2 separate regions of the Homo sapiens genome follow, and region 2 is reported to be linked to region 1. Evidence: microRNA targets listed by miRTarBase, many of them from high-throughput screens and not tested one by one. Region 1 holds a microRNA gene; the other region holds the end of a gene's coding sequence.
The links. Region 1 holds the annotated microRNA hsa-miR-7-5p (UGGAAGACUAGUGAUUUUGUUGUU, at 2,311-2,334, opposite strand). A microRNA usually pairs through its seed, bases 2 to 8, with sites in the 3' UTR of a target mRNA and lowers its output. Matches are read on the target gene's strand: a 7mer-m8 pairs with bases 2 to 8, a 7mer-A1 pairs with bases 2 to 7 and ends in A, and an 8mer does both.

Region 1 (3,202 bases):
CTCCATTGAGGACCCCAGAAGGCAATATCTGTGTGCCTTTTCCTTTCTGAAAGACCTTGCATTCCCAGGGGGCAATTCTAAATAGACCAGGAAACCTCCCACAATTAGACCTAACCCAGACATTGAACCTCCCTCTGCTCAGCCCATTCATAAAGTGCCTCTGGCATTTAGGTGTCTTCTAATCTCATTTTCTCTGCTTGTTAATGGACCCACTGAGGCAGTACTCCTGGGAGAGAGAGAAAGATTTCATTTGTCTGGGGCTGAGGAGGGAGACGAGGGTTGCCAGAGCTAATGAGGAATCAGTGCCTTGTAATTGCTAATTAAATGAGCCTGGCTCTCTCTCTTGGGGCTGTGAGTTGGCTGGCCGGCCCTTAAGTGTCCACAAATTCAATTATGCTTCCCCAATAAACACCTCCAGCAACCATTGCCCTCCAGTATCTCTCTGGGGGAGACCTAGAAGAAGGATCTTCCTGTGTGTGCTGAGGCCATTCATTCATTTATTGATTGATGTATTGGTTTATTCTTTGATGCCTTTATTGATTCAACACATGCTTATTATATGCCTGCTGTGTGCCGGGCCCCGGACCAGGCGCTGGGGACACAGCAGTGAAAATACTAACATTGTTTCTGCCCTCACGGAGCTCACAGTGTAACAGGGAGACAAATAGACCTGTCAGTAGATAACATGAAAATAATTGGACTATGTGCTGCAGACACAATATCCCAGGTCTATGAGAATGTCAATACAGACTTCACGTGGGAAATGGTGAGGCAATAAGGATCGTTTCCCTTGATGAAATGGAGCTTGCAGAAGAAGGCAGGGTCAGTTGTGGGGAGCTCTGGTTGGAGGTGGAGGGAGTGCATTCCAAGCTGCAGGAACAGCAGAGGCAAAAGCCCTGAGGCTGGAGAACAGGTAACCATGTGCAGTTTTTCACTTGATTAGGGTGTTGCAGAGAATTGGGAGTGAGTCTTATATATTTATTTATTTATTTATTATTTTTTACTGAGATGAGGTCTTGCTATGTTGCCCAGGCTGGTCTCGAACTCCTGAGCTCAAGCTATCCTCCCACCTTGGCCTCCCAAAGTGCTGGGATTACAAGTGTGAGCCACCATGTCTGGCAAAGGTGGTGAGCCTTTATGATGTCATAAGTCACCACTGGGCACAAGTTCACACTTGTCCTATGATTGGCCCATGACACTGATGGGTAGCAGACAGGAAAGGAATCTTTTCTGAAACTTTTTTTTTGAAACAGGGTGTTGTTCTGTTGCCCAGTCTGGAGTGCAGTGGTGCAGTCATGGCTCACTGCAGCCTTGATCTCCCAGGCTCAAGTGTTCCTCCCACCTCCTAAGTAGTTGGGACTACAGGCATGTGTCAACTCACGGGGTCTCACTATATTGCCCAGGCTGGTCTCAAACTCCTGTACTCAAGCAATCCTCCCATCTCATCCTCCCAAAATGTTAGGATTACAGGTATGAGCTCCCACACCCAGCCCACTTCTGGAACTTTTATTGAAAAGTATCCTTAGGCTGGGTTCGGTGGCTCACACCTGTAATCTTGGCACTTTGAGAGGCTGAGGCAGGAGACCATGTCTTTACAAAAAAGAAAAAAAAAATGTTTTTTGAGACAGAATCTCTCTCTGTTGCCCAGGCTGGAGTGCAGTGGTGCAATCTTGGGTCATGCAGCCTCTGCCTCCTGGGTTCAAGGGATTCCCATGCCTCAGCCTCCCGAGTAGCTGGGACTACAGGTGTGTGCCACAACGCCCAGCTAATTTTTGTATTTTTAGGAGAAATGGAGTTTCACCATGTTGTCCAGGCTGGTCTTGAACTCCTGGCCTCAAGTGGTCCACCTGCCTTGGCCTCCCAAAGTGCTGGGATGACAGGCGTGAGCCACCCGGCCAAAAAAATAATAATTTTTTTTTTAATAGAAAAGTACCCTGAGAACTCTGGTCTAGGGAGGGCTTTAAATGTCATTCCCTCATTGGGTCTCCCAGGAAAGCGCCATAAGGTGGTTAGAGGTCTTGGGTTTAGAGTCAGGTATGTTCTATCTCCAGGCTTGTGGGGGCGTACGAGTGATGTGACAAACCCCATACATGGTGCATGGCTGTATGAGCACAGGATGTATGTCCTTGTTTGCTTCCCTCCTTTGCCTGTGCCTGTATCGCCTGGAGTGAGCCAGCCCCCCCACTCCGAGTGGAAGCGATTCTTCCCCGACCTCCCCGGTTCTCCCCCACTGGCCAGCCCATTGAAGGCGAAGGTCGAAGGGAGTCTGCGCTATGAGGCCGGCTGTGACTTGTTGTCGTAGTACATCAGAACAACAAAATCACTAGTCTTCCACACAGCACTAGACCACAGCCACTCTAATCTTCTTCACCACCCTCTGCCCCATGTCTGAGACCCCTGCCCAGCTCCTCCTTCTCACCTGAGCCAAGCTATGACACCTGAGTTTCCTGCCTCTGTGCTGCCTCCCTGTTTTCCATTCCCGGTTCTCCTGGAGAGAAGCAGGGTCTGATCTCCAAGGGCCCACCTCCCACCCAGGCACGTCAGAGACATGGGATTTGGAGTTGGACTGGTGGGGTTGACTTACAGCTTCACTTGTGGGCTGAGAGTCCCTGCGTGGGTTATTTTTCTGCCTTTCTCAGGGCCTTGGGTTCCCCAAATGTCACATGGGCACAGTAACACCCATGTCCTAGGGTTGAAGATGGCATGATATGATGTATGTAAAATGCTTGGCACAAGGTTTCTCACCGAAGTCTGGAAGAGACACCATAATGTCATCTTAGCAGGCAGCTGTTACCCCAGTGAGGTATCTTACCTGTTGAAAATTCCGGACTTGGGCCAGGCGCAGTGACTCACGCCTGTAATCCTAGCACTTTGGGAGGCTGAGGTGGACGGATGAAGAGGTCAAGAGTTTGAGACCAGCCTGGCCAACATGGTGAAACCCCGTCTCTACTAAGAATACAAAAATTAGCCGGGAGTGGTGGCATGTGCCTGTAATCCCAGATACTCGGGAGGCTGAGGCAGGAGAATCCCTTGAACCCAGGAGGCAGAGGTTGCAGTGAGCCGAGATCGTGCCACTGCACTCCAGCCTGGGCGACAGAGCAAGACTCCGTCTCGAAAAAAAAAGAAAATTGCAGACTTCTGTGTGTGCTTATCTGGAAAATACTTTGTTTAAAAATCCATTACATGAGGTGCAGGTCTCCAG
Region 2 (3,093 bases), not on the chromosome of region 1:
TGGGATTACAGGCATGAGCCACCTCACCAGGCTAACAAGATTGTTTTTAAAAGAATGTACTAATAAAGTATCTAGTTTTTTTGTTTCTTTGTATTACTTTATCAGTGGCATTCTGGGTTACCAAACTGTAGTAGGATTGCACAAGTTTTTTAGTTGGTTTTGTTTTAACTTTAAGGACTTGCACATTTCATTTTACATTTAATTCTGTTTTTTGAGAAATGATTAAAGTGATCTACCTCCAAAATGTTTAACAATCCGATATGCTTCTAAGTATCCTGCCAATGTACTTAATCAAATGTACTTAAAAATCAGTTTTCTTAAAGAAGCATACACTGTAATTCACCTGGAAAAATAGCATTTTTAAGTAAAATTAGGCAATTAGCCTAAAAATATGATTTGCCTCTATTCTGGAAAATAATTCATTTAATTCAGATTATGGAAAAGTCTTAAATTTGTATAGCATTCATGCAATTTAATAACAAAGAAGTGAGTTTCCTTATCAAAACAATCTGAGTAGAATCAGATTGAGACTGAGTGGAAACATCATCTCTAAAAAATATACAGGCCGGGCACGGTGGCTCATGTCTGTAATCCCAGAATTTTGGGAGGCCAAGGTGGGTGGGTCACCTGAAGTTGGGAGTTTGAGACCAGCCTGACCAACATGGAGAAACCCTGTCTCTACTAAAAATACAAAATTAGCTGGGCATGGTGGCGCATGCCTGTAATCCCAGGTACTCGGGAGGCTGAGGCAGGAGAATCGCTTCAACACGGGAGGCGGAGGTTGCGGTGAGCCGAGATAGCGCCATTGCACTCCAGCCTGGGCAACAAGAGTGAAACTCCATCTAAAAAAAAAAAAAATTCCAGGTTATACTATATCCTGATCTATATCCTTAGACCATTTTTAATCCTTAGACCATTTTTAATGTTTTTCCTTTTTGGTGAGACTAGGAATTTCAGAAAACTAGGTTTTCTGTTAATTCTTTTTTTCTCCACCTTAAGTAGAGTGATTAGAGACTACGTTTTCAAGTGAAAATCTAAGGTGTTGCTTTTGCTGTTTTAAGAAAGCTTCTGCACTGGGTGCAGTGGCTCACGCCTGCAATCCTAACACTTTGGGAGCCTAGGCAGGAGGATTGCTTGAGCTCAGTTCAAGACCAGCCTGGGCAACATAGGGAGACCCTGTCTCTACAAAAAATTAAAAAATTAGCTTGGCATAGTGGTGCACAACTGTAGTCCCAGCTACTCAGGAGGCTGAGGTGGGAGAATTGCTTGAGCCCAGGAGGTCGAGGCTGCAGTGAGCCATGACCACACCACTACACTCTGGCCTGAGCAAGAGTGAGACCCTGCGTTTAAACAAAACAAAACAAAAACAAAAACACACCAAAGCTAAAAGCTTCTCTGTGATTTAAAAGATGTAGAACTAGACCAGCCTGTCCAACATGGTGAAATGCCACCTCTACTAAAAATACACACCAAAAAATTAGTTGGGCATGGTGGCACGTGCCTATAATCCCAGCTACTCTAGAGATGCTGAGGCAGGAGAATCGCTTGAACTCGGGAGGTGGAGGTTGCGGTGAGCCAAGATCGTGCCACTGCACTCCAGCCTAGGCGACAGAATGAAACTCCATCTCAAAAAAAAAGATGTAGAACTAGATAGGCCTGCTCATTAGAATATCAAGATGGCTCCAGCTTGACTTTTCTTTCCTAATTTATATGTACTAGTGGCTTTATTTTAAATAGTTTCCTTTGAAAATAATCATTTTGACCAGCTATTATGTGTTTGGTGGTAAGGGACAAGTTGTTATCTGTACCATGCCAAATATCCTAATAAAAACTGGAAAACATGTCCAACTTACCTTTGAATGTGGCTTTCCCTCATGACACTGCTCCCTACTGACTTTAGAGCCATAGATCCTTTTAGCTCATATAATTGGGTTATACCATGTGAAATAAGTTTGGACATGCCTTTCCCAGTGGTAACTCCTGTGAAAACTCAATGGAACTACCTTTTCTTTTCAGATACTCACAGATACGAGGTTTTCCGCTTGAAGTGGGAGAATATGTGCATTCTTTTCAATGATCACAAGACTCTAACAAAGGGGATTTTTAATCTTTAATTTTCAAGATGGTTAAAATATTGAAATGTTTAAGTGGATAACTATATTATTCATAAAATGACTGAGTGAAAACTAATATACTATGAGATGAAAAGTACTTGTCAGGGATTTTCAAGCTTTTGCTCAAGTAATTACCATGAAGTAACAATTTCTAGAAATGAAGAACAATCTGTGAAGATAAATTACCATTGGTGTGGGGAAAAAAAGCCAAACAGAAGTAGAAAAAGGTGTAGCTGGCATACAAATGTTATCTACAGTGTATTTATATATATATATTTTTAAAACTTTTAACTAAAAAGTAAACTTTAATGTCGAAAATGCAAACTTGGGGAAGACAGAAAAGATCACACACAAGGCTGTCACTTCACACGTGGAAGGTTGCACAGCGGCCGGGCAGAGGCGCTTGTCACACTTCCCAGATGGTCAGGCGGCCAGGCAGAGGCGCTCCTCACTTCCCAGACGGGGCAGCAGCTGGGCAGAGGTGCTCCTCACTTCCCAGACTTTTATATTTTTTATACTTGACCAGGTCTCTTATGTCCTTTTTCTGGAAAACTACTTTTAACTACTAAAGTGATTATAAATGAAAAAGTGGCCAATAAAGTGACTACTATCCTCAGGGCTTTAAACCAGTTGGGATAATGTGGTAAGAGAAAAAGTTCAAGGTGGAATGCTACTCCCATACCCATTATTACTGTGACTATGGCTTCACTAAGTCTTTCAGAAATAAGGAAGGCAAACCATGAAAAGAAAAGAGGAGCTGCACTGCTAGCTAAATTAAGGTAGTCTGGTTTGGCTGGACTACCTTCTGGTAGAGCAAAACCCCATCTGATCCCACCCAAGAAAGATAGGAAACTGGCTCCATAAGCCATCTGAGTAAAAGCTAATATGGGAATATAAGTTTTTGTCATCAGCATGACCAGTGGTGGAGCAACGAAGGGGATTAGTCCTGCCAGAGTTACACATAATGCTGGCTTTGGGC

Region 2: the mRNA of TMEM69 is a reported target of hsa-miR-7-5p. Seed matches in the 3' UTR shown: 7mer-m8 at 2,444-2,450.

Annotation. Positions count from the first base shown.
Region 1 is chr19:4,769,832-4,773,033 of GRCh38, reverse strand. MIR7-3 (microRNA 7-3) reads right to left here and starts at 2,364; the gene lies at 2,255-2,364. MIR7-3HG (MIR7-3 host gene) reads right to left here. Exons shown (of 3, transcript NR_027148.1): 3 at 478-870.
Region 2 is chr1:45,693,439-45,696,531 of GRCh38, reverse strand. TMEM69 (transmembrane protein 69) reads right to left here. Exons shown (of 3, transcript NM_016486.4): 3 at 2,096-3,093. The coding sequence ends at 2,627. It also overlaps a transcript of IPP not described here. Among named protein-coding and RNA genes, the nearest start is that of TMEM69, 6.8 kb to the right of the region's middle.